2 separate regions of the Homo sapiens genome follow, and region 2 is linked to region 1. Evidence: fine-mapped expression QTL. A gene starts in region 1. The other region holds a variant in brackets. All regions are shown on one strand. Distances are from middle to middle. Region 1 holds the start of SEMA5B (semaphorin 5B). Region 2 overlaps SEMA5B (semaphorin 5B).

Region 1 (5,367 bases):
CCAGTCTTTGCTCTGCATGTGGAACCTTATATCAATGGATGTGATGTGCTCAGATTTGAGTAAAACAAGATGGCTCCCTCAAGGAACTTATCATCTGACAGAAGAATCTTAATGGGCCCTGAGAATGAGGGTGAGCCAAGGGCCCAACAGGTCAGAGGTAGAACCAGGCCATGAGATATTCCAGTCAATCCCCAAGGTACAGGGAGACAAGATAACATGTATATCCAAGGCAGATGAGCTCACTTCTTAGAATCTTAATATCTTTATCTATAGATATAAGGGGTCAGGCTACTTAAAGGCTGTTAATTGATTTTGTTAGGATCATTTCACTTGGCCAGTTTGGCTTTGAACTCCCAATTGTCCATAAGCTGGGCCACTCTAATTGCCTGATCAACACACTGTGACCTGCCTGCCCTCTGTAGGCATTTGAATTTGTGCTTCCCCTGACATGGACAATCTCCAGGGCCTCTCCCAGCTTTGAGTCTCAATAAGAAGTGACCACTGTAGGGTCTTTCAAACAAGCCAGGAAGTTCATCCTAAGACAAGAAAGTTTCTGGGGCTCCTCCAGTCCTAATGGGGAGGTAGCAATCTACAGTGTTGGGCTGGACCTCTCGGCTTCTCTGGTTTTCTAGTCTGGCACTAGAAGTGGTAAAGGAACTTTTTCCCCTCCCTAGTGGGAAAGGAGGTGCTGGCTGTCCTATCTCAGGGCAGAGTCAATAAGCCCAGCTCTCTGTCCCACCTGAGTCATCGAGTTTTTTTTAACCCTTCCTCTCCTAAACCCTTGGGTCATCAGGCACCTTGCTGCCTGTACAGCCACTGCATGTTCCTCTCCATGTTCTCCCTCCCCAAACACATAGACAAGTGTCTCAGGATCAAACTGGTGAACTTACTAACCTCTCTGGGCATGGGCTCGGCCCTGTACCTCTTTTTATCTACCAGCATTTAGCATGGTGCATTGCACATAGTAGGTGCTTAAACAGTGTTAGATGTCCACGGTGATGATTATGGTCGCTACTGTTGGCTTTGGAGGAGGAAGGCTCTGGCACTGGCTGCTTGGAAAAAGAAAAGGGATGGAAGATCTGCCATTCCTTCCCAAACTGGTGGTGATAGGTGTTGATATGGAGAAAAGAGCTCCCCCTGAAACCCACACTCACCTACACACACCTTTCCCAACACAGCAAGCCAGAGGCAGCCCTGCCCCGAGTGGTCTACCCCCACGCCCCAAGGCCCAGAACAGTTCTCACCGCCCCATGAGTGACCAAGTGGCAAGTTCCCCCATCTCTCCTATATTTTATCTCCTTTCCTCCTCCGTTGAAAATCTAGACTTCGGGAAAGGTACTGGCTGTTTCTTTCCAAGCTGCTTTCAAATCTGCCCCCCTTTTCCGTAATCTTGAGGTCCAGTTACAAGGTTCAAGTTCCCCTCTTGCCCCTTCCTCAAGGTCATCTGTCCCGGCTTAGAAAAGGTGAGAGGCCACTGCTGATTGTCAAGAAGAGAACAGGCTTAAAAAGATGAGCTGAAGTGGGGAGGCCGAGGAGCAAGCAGGCAGGGAGGGCTGTGGAGAGAGGCCCCGAGGCCGAAGTGGGTTGGGGTGCCTGAGAAAAGCGGAAGGAGGTCGGATTCACTAGGGGCTGAAGGAAAAAGATGGGGTTAGGGCCAGAGAAGGTAGGATCGTGGTGAGGTCTAGACACAGGCAAGCTTCCAAACCCTCAGTCCCAATTCCGTTGGCCGGGAAGGAGTGCATGCCAGGGTAGCCCGCCCTCCCGGCTCCTGCTGCTCTCACCCCGCCCCTCTGCAGAAAGCCTGGGCAGGATCGCAGGGGTGCGGGCAGAATCCAGCGCTCCTCTCTCCCCATCCAGACTCTCGGCCCACTCCCGCCTGGCGCGGCGGGCAGTCGGAACTACCCAAAGACTGGGCTCGAGGTGGGGGGCGGGGGCGGGGAGGAGGGGGCCAGAACGGCGCTGCAGGTGATCCTCCTCCTTGTTTAAAGTTTGCGGTGGGCAAAGGAGTCGGCTCCGTTGGGCCGGGTTTTCTCGAGCCTCGCCTTCTTCCTCCGCCGGTCCGGCGACCACTTCCCTCTTGGCTCCCGCCCCGCGCGGGTCCCCGATCCCCTCTCCCGTCTGCATCCCTCTCTGTGCCCGAGCGCCCCCCGCTCCCTCCCTCCTCGCTGGATCTCCCGCAGGACGTGAGCGGAAAGTGAATGGGCAGCCCCAACCACAAAGACAAATTACCATGAGAAACATAAATCGGGAAATCGCCGCTCGCGTCCCTGCTTCCAGCTGCCGCACCCCTCTCCACCCTCCCAGCCGGGAGTGCGGGGCCCTGAGCCACTGCCCCTGGAGCCTGGTGGGCAGAGTTCACGCTCCGCAGGCCTGGTCAGGGCAAGAGTGTCCTGGAGGCGGGTCTGGGAAGAATCCGGGCGGCGGCTCCGCAGGCGGCGGCGGTGGAGCAGGGACGTCCCTGAGCGGGAGATTTCACACTCTGGGCGGGCCACGCGTTCCCACGCGCCTCGCCGCCCGCACTCTCCCTCAGTGCTGTTTACTAGCCGGCCCTCTCTGAGCCTCCATCTCCGCACCTCTGTCCCTCCGTCCCTCAGCCTCACTCGTCCGTCTCCTTCTCCAGGCCTGGGTCCCGGGTCCCCATCGCCGCTGCAGCCCAGATGCGCCGACCACAGCCCTGGCAGGGCCCAGTGCAACCCGGACCCAAGCTGGCTGGCGGCGGGAACGCAGCAGCGATGAGGGCTCTCAAGCCGAGGTGGCAGCGGGAGGCGCGGAAGCCAGGGGACCCCCTGTCCTCCCGCCCGCAGCCTCACCTACCTGGCTTCAACTTGCCAGAGCCCGGACCCCTACCTCTCTACCCCGATACCCACCCGAGTTGCTGAAGTTTGCAAGTTGCAGCCCCAACCCGCGCAGGGGAAGCGCCCGGGGCTCCCGGGACTCACCTCCCAGAGGCGGGTGCAGGTGCCCGGTTCCCCGCGGCTCCCGACTCCCGGGCGGCGCGGAGCGGCGGGAGCTAACCAGATGGGCTGGCGGCCGGTCTGGGAATGGGGCGGCCGCGCAGGAACGGCCTCCAGCTCTCAGCGCTCCGGTGCAGTCCCCACCCGGGCCCGCGCCCGCTGCGCTCGGGCTCCCAGCAGCCGCTGGATGCGCTGCCGACCCGCCCGGCTCGGCGGAGCTGGGCTCTGGCACCAACCCCCGCGCTCCAACTAGCTCCCGACCCGGCGCTCGGAGAGAGCAGGGAGGAGGAGACCGCGGGAGCAGAAGGAGGGAGGGGGCGGTGGGGGAGGAGTTGCAAGCAAAGGGAGAGAAGGAGGGGAGCGGGAGCGAAAAAGAGGAGGGGGCTGGAGCAGACCTGCCGCGGCGGGCGCTGCACCCGCCAGCCTCGAGGCGCGCGGAGGAGCGCGAGGGGGCGCCCTGCATCCCGCGGCTGCTCGGCCGACTCCCGCCCCGGGCCTGCCGAGTGTGGTGACCAGCCCGGTGGGCCGAAGCCCCTTCCCCGGCCGGCATTCCGGCGGCAAGACCTAGGACTCCGAGCACTTGCCGCCGTTTGCCACATCCCGCCTTGCCGTTCTCGGTCACCCCATCTCGAATGTGACATCCCCGAGGGCCATCGGCGCGGCCTGCCCACCCCAACACTCAGGGCCTGAGGAAGCTCCCCCAAACCCCACTCCGGACTCCCACATTCCCCAGCCCCGTCAGTTCGGAACGATCTTCCTGCCTGTGGATTTGAAGGGGAAGGGACCTCGTGTAAAACGGGGGAGAGCCGTTATAACCTGCAGCGGCAGAGAGGGAGGCTAGGCTGCTGGGCTGGGCTGGAAAGCCAGAACTGGCCGGATTAGGGTTAACCTTGCAAACTGTACGATACCGAGCGAACCTCTCCAAGCCTCAGTTTCCTCAGCTGTAAACTGGGGTTAGTAATACGCACCCTACAGAATTGTGAAGAACGAGTAGGGGATACGGGGAGTAAAATAACATCAGGAACAGTGGGAGGGCAGCCAAGAGATGAGCGATCCGGGGAGGTGGTGGAGCGTTCTCAGCTGAGGACGGAAGGTTTAGCGCAATCACAAGGAGCGAGGCCGAATTGTTTACAAGTTTAAGTGATCTAGTGTTTCTGATGGCTAGAAGGCGGGAGAGAAAGATTCAAGGGGCAAGCTTCAAATCCTAGCTGCCCGGGCTGCAAGAGGGATGGGAAGGGAGCCCTCTGCTGAACAAAAAATATATTTGAAAATGTAAAAAAAGGTGACCTAAGAACGAGTGAGAAAGACAAAGGATTTGAAAAATTAAAACCAGGAAAGTGTGATTCTAAGAGATAACCAAAGAGAACTATGAAATAAAAATAGATAAGTTGGAGGAAGGAAAATATCAAAAGACTTTCTAGAGTATGCCAAAAATTGGATAATTAGAACAAAGTCTGAGTGAAGCATTTTACATAATAAAATTCTGGGTAAAGGAAAACCCAGATAAAGCAGAAGAATTGAGACACTAAGAGCCCCAGAGAAGCACCTCCTGCCTGCCATCCTCCTACCCCTGGACCATGGCAAGAAGCAGTTTGACAGGATAATGGGAAAGAAAGGGTGGTTCTGAATCCAAGAAGGGAGTTTATGAGACACTGTAAAAAGAGAAACAGTGCAAGATCTCAAAGATAGACTTTCTAGGGCAACAGAAATGCTGAAACTCATAATGTGCAGAATGGAGAGAAACTTGCAAAGGGAAAACACGCTCTGGACACAAAGGCAGAGATGCAGAGAAGAAAAGAAAGGAAACGGGCATGTGTGGGCATACCAGTCTGGTAGCCCAGTCTGGGGTAAAAATCAAGTTGGAAGAGGCAGCATGGGATATTGAGTCCAAATCTATCATTTTATCAACAAGGACAATGAGCTCTGGACCATTCTCCCAGAGTCCCAGGCTGAGATAGGGATAGGTCTCCTGATCTCCACCGTGGAACCTTTCCACTGCAATGAGCGTGCCCCCCCCCCAACCCCCATTCCCTGCAGAGCCATGGGGAATGTTTTTGTCATCACAAAAAATAGAAGTATGTGCAATATAGAGATACCTTTTAATTAACACAAAAAACCACGAAGCTATTCCATACTGCAGGACCAGGGAATGAACAGGAGAGCTTCCAATTTGTCTGGTTGGGAGAATAGACAAAATGCCTTCTGAGTGGCTCTGTCAGCCACAGCTCTCCCTTGAAAGATAACCAAAATATTCTCCACCCTTCACACATTCTCTCACCTGCCCTCTTGTTTGCTACCATGTTTTGATTGTGTTCATTCTTTTCTTCCCACTATCATGTCAAGGCCTTTCCTGGCTCTCCCTCTCCATGTTATAAAGTGGAGAGGGGGTTTGGGGGCTTGGCACAGGAAGGGA
Region 2 (5,367 bases), 70 kb before region 1:
TTCTCTGCTACCTGCCATGTGAGCTGAGGACAATCTGAAGACAAAGACCAGTGACAGGAGACAGAGGCATGCTGACAGCTTTCCAGTTCCCTGTTCCAGCCCTTTCCTGAGGTTTAAATACATTCTACTTCCATGAGCCACCCCCACTCCCAGACCCTTGTAATAAAATTTCCCGTTTTTACTTAATCCCGTTGGAGTTGTGTCAGACTAGGAGTTGCCAACAGGCATTGCCTCCTCAGTCTGTCCTCGCCTTCCTCCTTTCTAAAGGAGCCTCTGCTTCATGAGGGCAGGAGGCAACCTGCCCTGCTCAAAACTTTTCCTAGTCTTTCAGGAAGAGGTGGCCCATGAGATGAATGAGGAGGTTGTCAGTGGGGCTTACAGGGACGTGCTCTAAGAGGGCTTCCCTTTTTCCAGAGTGGTTGGCAGATAGGAGGAATGGTGCCACAGTAGCCATCTGCAGCTGGTAAGTGACCTTTAGCCATATGCTAAGGATTGCAAAGCAGATCAAGTCAGTCTTTGCAGGGGAAACTGGAACAGAAAAATATGGGCCCTGTGGGGTGGTCATCTTTTTTTTTTTTTTTTTTTGAGACAGGGTCTCACTTTGCCGCCTAGGCTGGAGTGCAGTGGAATGATCACAGCCACTGCAGCCTCAACCTCCCAGGCTCAAGCGATCCTCCCTCCTCAGCCTCCAGAGTAGCTGGGACTACAGGCACATACCACCAGGCTGGGCAATTTTGTTTTTTGTTTTTTTTTTTTTGTAGAAACAGAGTCCACTGTGTTGCCCTGGCTGGTCTCAAACTCCTGGACTCAAGCTATCCTATCACCTCAACCTCCCAAAATGCTGGGATTGCAGGTGTTGAGCCTACCTGAGTAGTCATCATCTTCTTCTTTTTTTTTTTTAGACCGTGTCTCTAAAAAAACAAAGGACGTGACCTTTAGCCATATGCTAAGCTAGGTGGAACCTGGAATGTTGAAGATGGAGCCAGCTCTGTTCTGTCTACCTCCAGACTCCTTTCCTATGCTTGCTGTGTCTCTCGTTTCCTTCTCTGCAAAATGGGGAGAATAATAACACCCAGCTCACAGCTGTTGTGGAGATGAAATAAGTTATTTTTATCTAACAGGCCTAGAACAGCATCTGCCACAAAGTAGGCATTGTATAAGTGCTATTATTATTAGCGAATAATACAGTCTCAACTAGTTTAAGCCCTTGCTTTTCACATCTCAATTATATTAACTAAATATAATTCCTATCCCATACAGTTTGGTTTCTCATACGTACAACCAAATACTCCCAAGACAAACAGAAATTTCTATTTCTAACACGTCTGTCTGATTTGATGTTAAAATAATTCCAGAATTTCCCCACCAGCAGTGCATAGCCAATCCAATTATCCCGAGGGTTGTATAGTATCATAGAAAGCCCTGAGCTTGGGAGGCTGCTCTACCTGGTTGCAAACCTTGGTTTCATCACCTGTGAAATAAGGTTAATAGCTTCTTGCTTAGAGAGACTGCTTTGATACACCCAGAACTAAGTCTGGTACCGAGTAGGCTCTTTATGAAATCCATTAATATTAGTTTACTAGTATATGTAAAACATATTCCACTAGTTACCTAAGTATCTGTTCATTCATTTACATAATACTTCACTGAGCATTTACTGAACACCTACTATGTGCTGGGCCCTGTATAGATGAGAAAGCGGGGAGGAGGGAGGTTCACAAGACAAAACCATGGTCCTTGCCTTCAAGGAGCTTACAGTCTAAAAGAGGAGAGGAGACATGTCTCCAGTGAGCACAGACAGCGACCCATGGCCCCGGGTCTGGATGGGGAAGGGGGCACAGATGGCCAGTGCCTTGCCCTGCCTCGGGCCTGCTTGGCATTGGAGCTGGGGCAGGGTGCTCTAGGAGTGGGGGAGGGGAGATGCAGCACCAGCCAACTCCTGCTATTTTGGGAAATCTTCAGCAGTGAAGAAAGCATTTTCCCAAATCTTTGGCCAGAGCTTCTCTTGCCTTCTCTCACGCTGCTGTCCCAGTTCCCTGTGGGTTCTGGGTTTGGGGTCACTCTTATGGTGCCTGGAGGCGTGTGAATGCACGCGCATGTGTGTGAGAGAATGCACGCCCATGCACACGCCCCCTGAGGCCTCCCCACCTTGTATGGGACTTCTCCTGGGCTCATTTTCCCAGCACAGAGATTAGGAAGAGGGTTTGCTGTAACAGGGGGAGTGAGTGAAATTGGCGAGTGACAGTGAAGGAGCGCAGAGAAGTGGGGGCAGGAGCCAAGGCCGGAGCAATCAAGAGGCCTGCAGCTACACAGCGACCGGTGCCCTCTGCTCAGGGGCGAAGGATGACGGAGACAGAGGCTAAGAGAGTGTGTATCAGAGCTGAATTCCCCCACAGAGCGCAAACCAGTCTCCCAACAGGTGCCCCCTGCACAACCGAACCCTCCCCCGTTTTCAGACAGGGGATCGCCCAGACCACCCCGGGGTGGGTAGCAGCTGAGTTGCTGGTACCATTCCATTCAGCACGAGGATGCATCGGGCCGGCTCTCCTGCAACGTCCAGCAAGACAGATGCATGGGTAGAGCAGCGGGAAGCAGCTGATGTGAGTGCCCTAAAAGGGAAAAAACGTCCTGGGAAAGCGGGTGACGGGCTGCAGTCAGGCGGGTGTCTAAGAGGCCTCACGTAGAAGGCGGAACTCTCTTGAAGGGAACAAGGGTGGAGCTTCCCCAGCCATCAGGGGCGAAGAGCATTCCAGACAGAGGGCACAGCAGGGGAAAGACTTGGCTCTGGCCTATCCTTGGACAATCTGGAGAAGCTGGTGGAGAGAGGCAGAGAGGGAGATGAGTCTGGAAAGCAGGACCGAGGCCAAATCACAGTGAGACTTGAGCACAAACCTAAAGATTCAGGAGTTTTCCCTCTGCTGAAGAGGAGGATTTGTGGATAGTTTGGGACAGTAGAAAGATGTGGTCAGATCTGTGCATGCTTTGGGAAGTTTGGTGGCAGTGAGCAAGGGGACAGGTGGATTAGAGCAGGCCATTTGTCAGCAGGGCAACTCTAGACATTGGGAAGCTGGTCTTGCACCCAGAATGCAGCTGGATCTCAGCCCAATTTGCAGCCTTGTGGAGAATTCCCCAGTCCAACTGTGGGGCTTGGCTCCAGACAGAAGCAGGGAGAATGAGGGATCAGGCTGGAAGCCGTGTGGCCCACAGAGCTGCACCCAGGCAGGAGCAGCA[C/T]GGCCACTCATACTGCGGCCGACAAGGAGGTCCTCTCCAGGGTAACCTCACACTTCTTTTCTTTTTAGTGTAAAAAACCATGAAAGGGTGTCATCAGGAAGAAAAAGACAACCTACGACCCTAAAAGATGGGGGCTTGAGTACAAATGCCTGGAGCATATTGACAGCATGCTAGGCACTGTGCTAAGTAAGCTCTTTCCCTGCAAGATCTCACAGCAGCTTTGCAAGAAGGCCAAGAGGTGCCCACATAAGCATCATTCTAGAAGCTGAGGCACTTGCCCAAGGTCCCCCTGCCACTGCCAGTGAAGCTGGGATTTGAATCCGCGACTGTCTGCTGCATAAGCCCACACCCTGGGCTGCTACACTCACCATCCTCCCTGGAGGACAAACTGGCCCCAGCCTTATCGTTGCATTCCACAGCCCTGGCTCCAAGTGCTCTCCAAGCAGCCCTCCCAGTTTAATTTGGTTTTCTGAGTTGGCTTCCTTACTAGGGAGAGTGCTTTCTGGCTATAAATTATTAAGCTGACTTCCTGCTGCACACCAGCCTCCTGTGAATTTGGGCTGTGGGAGGCAGTTTTTCCCAGGTCCTGAATGGCTCCAGAGAAACAAATTCTAGAGGTTCCAGATGGAGAGGGCAGACTCTGGAGCCCCAAGCCCAGAGTGATGACAGCCACCTGGCAGCTTCCCCCAGCCCAGGCCTGACAGCCAGGGGCCAGGGTGGGTGGGAAGGAAGGCGATGCTTCCTTTAGTCCCCACCTCCAGCTCAGTCCATGAGGACCTTTGGGGAAGGTGATTCAGGCCAGTCCTCTTCCCCAGGTCCCCTCCATCCTTGCCTCCATTCAAAGTCTCCACTTGGCTTCCTGCCTGGGAAAGGGGGAGAAAAAGAGAAGGAAAATAAAAGAAGAGGAAATAGAGGGGAAACCAAGAGCAGGGAAGAATGTGTACTGTCTGCAGTTTGGCAGGAAGGGAAAGCATTGTGGGGGCAGCCCTCTCCTGCCCCTGCCCAGGGCCACCGAGTATGGTGGCCCACAAGTGGGCTTCTCCGTGGGGGTGGTGAAGGCATCTTCCCACCCACACATCACTCACCACTTGTGGGGCCAAGCTTAGCCCAACTCAGCACAAAGATAAGATTGAGATGCAGATGCCTTCCCATTGCTCTGAATAGAGCAGATTTGATACGGATTTTCCTCTTTTCTTCCCTTTTAGACCATCTGGGGGACTGGGGCCCAGAGGGAAGATTTGGACCAGAGAGGCAAGGCAGAGGGAGGAAAGCCTTCCTAGCACTTTTTAGCTCTAAAATCTATGGGGGGAGGGTATGGGGAGCCTCTCCTACCCCCACCCCCTTGCCCTCTCCCAGGGGCAACTTCATCCCCTGCCTCTGCTTTCTGCAATCTGGGCTGAGTTCTTCTCTCTTCCATATATTCCTAGAAACCTCCAAGTCACGCATGTGTGTCATGAGTGTTCCGGCAGTCCTCCCTGCAGTCCCACCCACATCCCTCCAGCTGCAATGGGGAAGATAAAAGGAACAAGGTGATGACCAAAAGTTTAACAAGAAGGGCTCTGACACAGATTACATGGTTCAGCACTGTACTTTATAGATGAAGAAACTGAGGATGGGAGGAGACAGCAAGATTGGGCAGGGAGCTCGCGGCAGAGACTAAGTAATAGTAGGATTAAGTAACAGTGACAACAACAATAACAACCATGTTATTGTGTACCCAGAAGTGGTCTATGCTCTTTATATTATGCCGTTTAATCCAAACAATAACCCCGTGAGGCGGGTATTGTAATCGTCGCCATTTCGTGGATGGGAAAACTGAGGCACAGACCAGTTAAAAGTAACTTGCATGAGGTCAGACTGGTAAAAGCTGGATTCAAACCCAGGCAGTCGGGCTCAGGAGTCTGCCCCTTACTCAATGCCAGCACACCACACAGGACACAGCCATTTAGAAAATGACATTATTTGACATAGCCATGTGGGTGGAGCCCAGGCCACTCCAGGGAATGTTTGCAGATGGCGAAAATCTCATAAACATGGTCTATAATCTTCTGTATTTGTGATCATAGAGACTGGTCTTGCTCCTACAAACAGAGTAAGTCAACACACGGTAAGGAATGAAAACAAGAAGAATATAAC

Evidence for each region. PIP is the estimated chance that this variant, and not a neighbour inherited with it, causes the effect. A credible set is the group of variants that fine-mapping cannot tell apart.
Region 2: its variant is the best candidate, but not a certain one, in a credible set for the expression of SEMA5B in tibial nerve (GTEx, PIP 0.58).

Annotation. Positions count from the first base shown.
Region 1 is chr3:123,024,525-123,029,891 of GRCh38, forward strand. It overlaps SEMA5B (semaphorin 5B), which reads right to left and starts at 3,239. Exons shown (of 23, transcript NM_001031702.4): 1 at 2,940-3,239. RefSeq lists an enhancer at 3,843-4,350.
Region 2 is chr3:122,954,227-122,959,593 of GRCh38, forward strand. All of the region lies in intron 2 of SEMA5B (semaphorin 5B), which reads right to left. Among named protein-coding and RNA genes, the nearest start is that of LINC02035, 70 kb to the left of the region's middle. The variant C/T (reference allele first, on the strand shown) is at 3,232.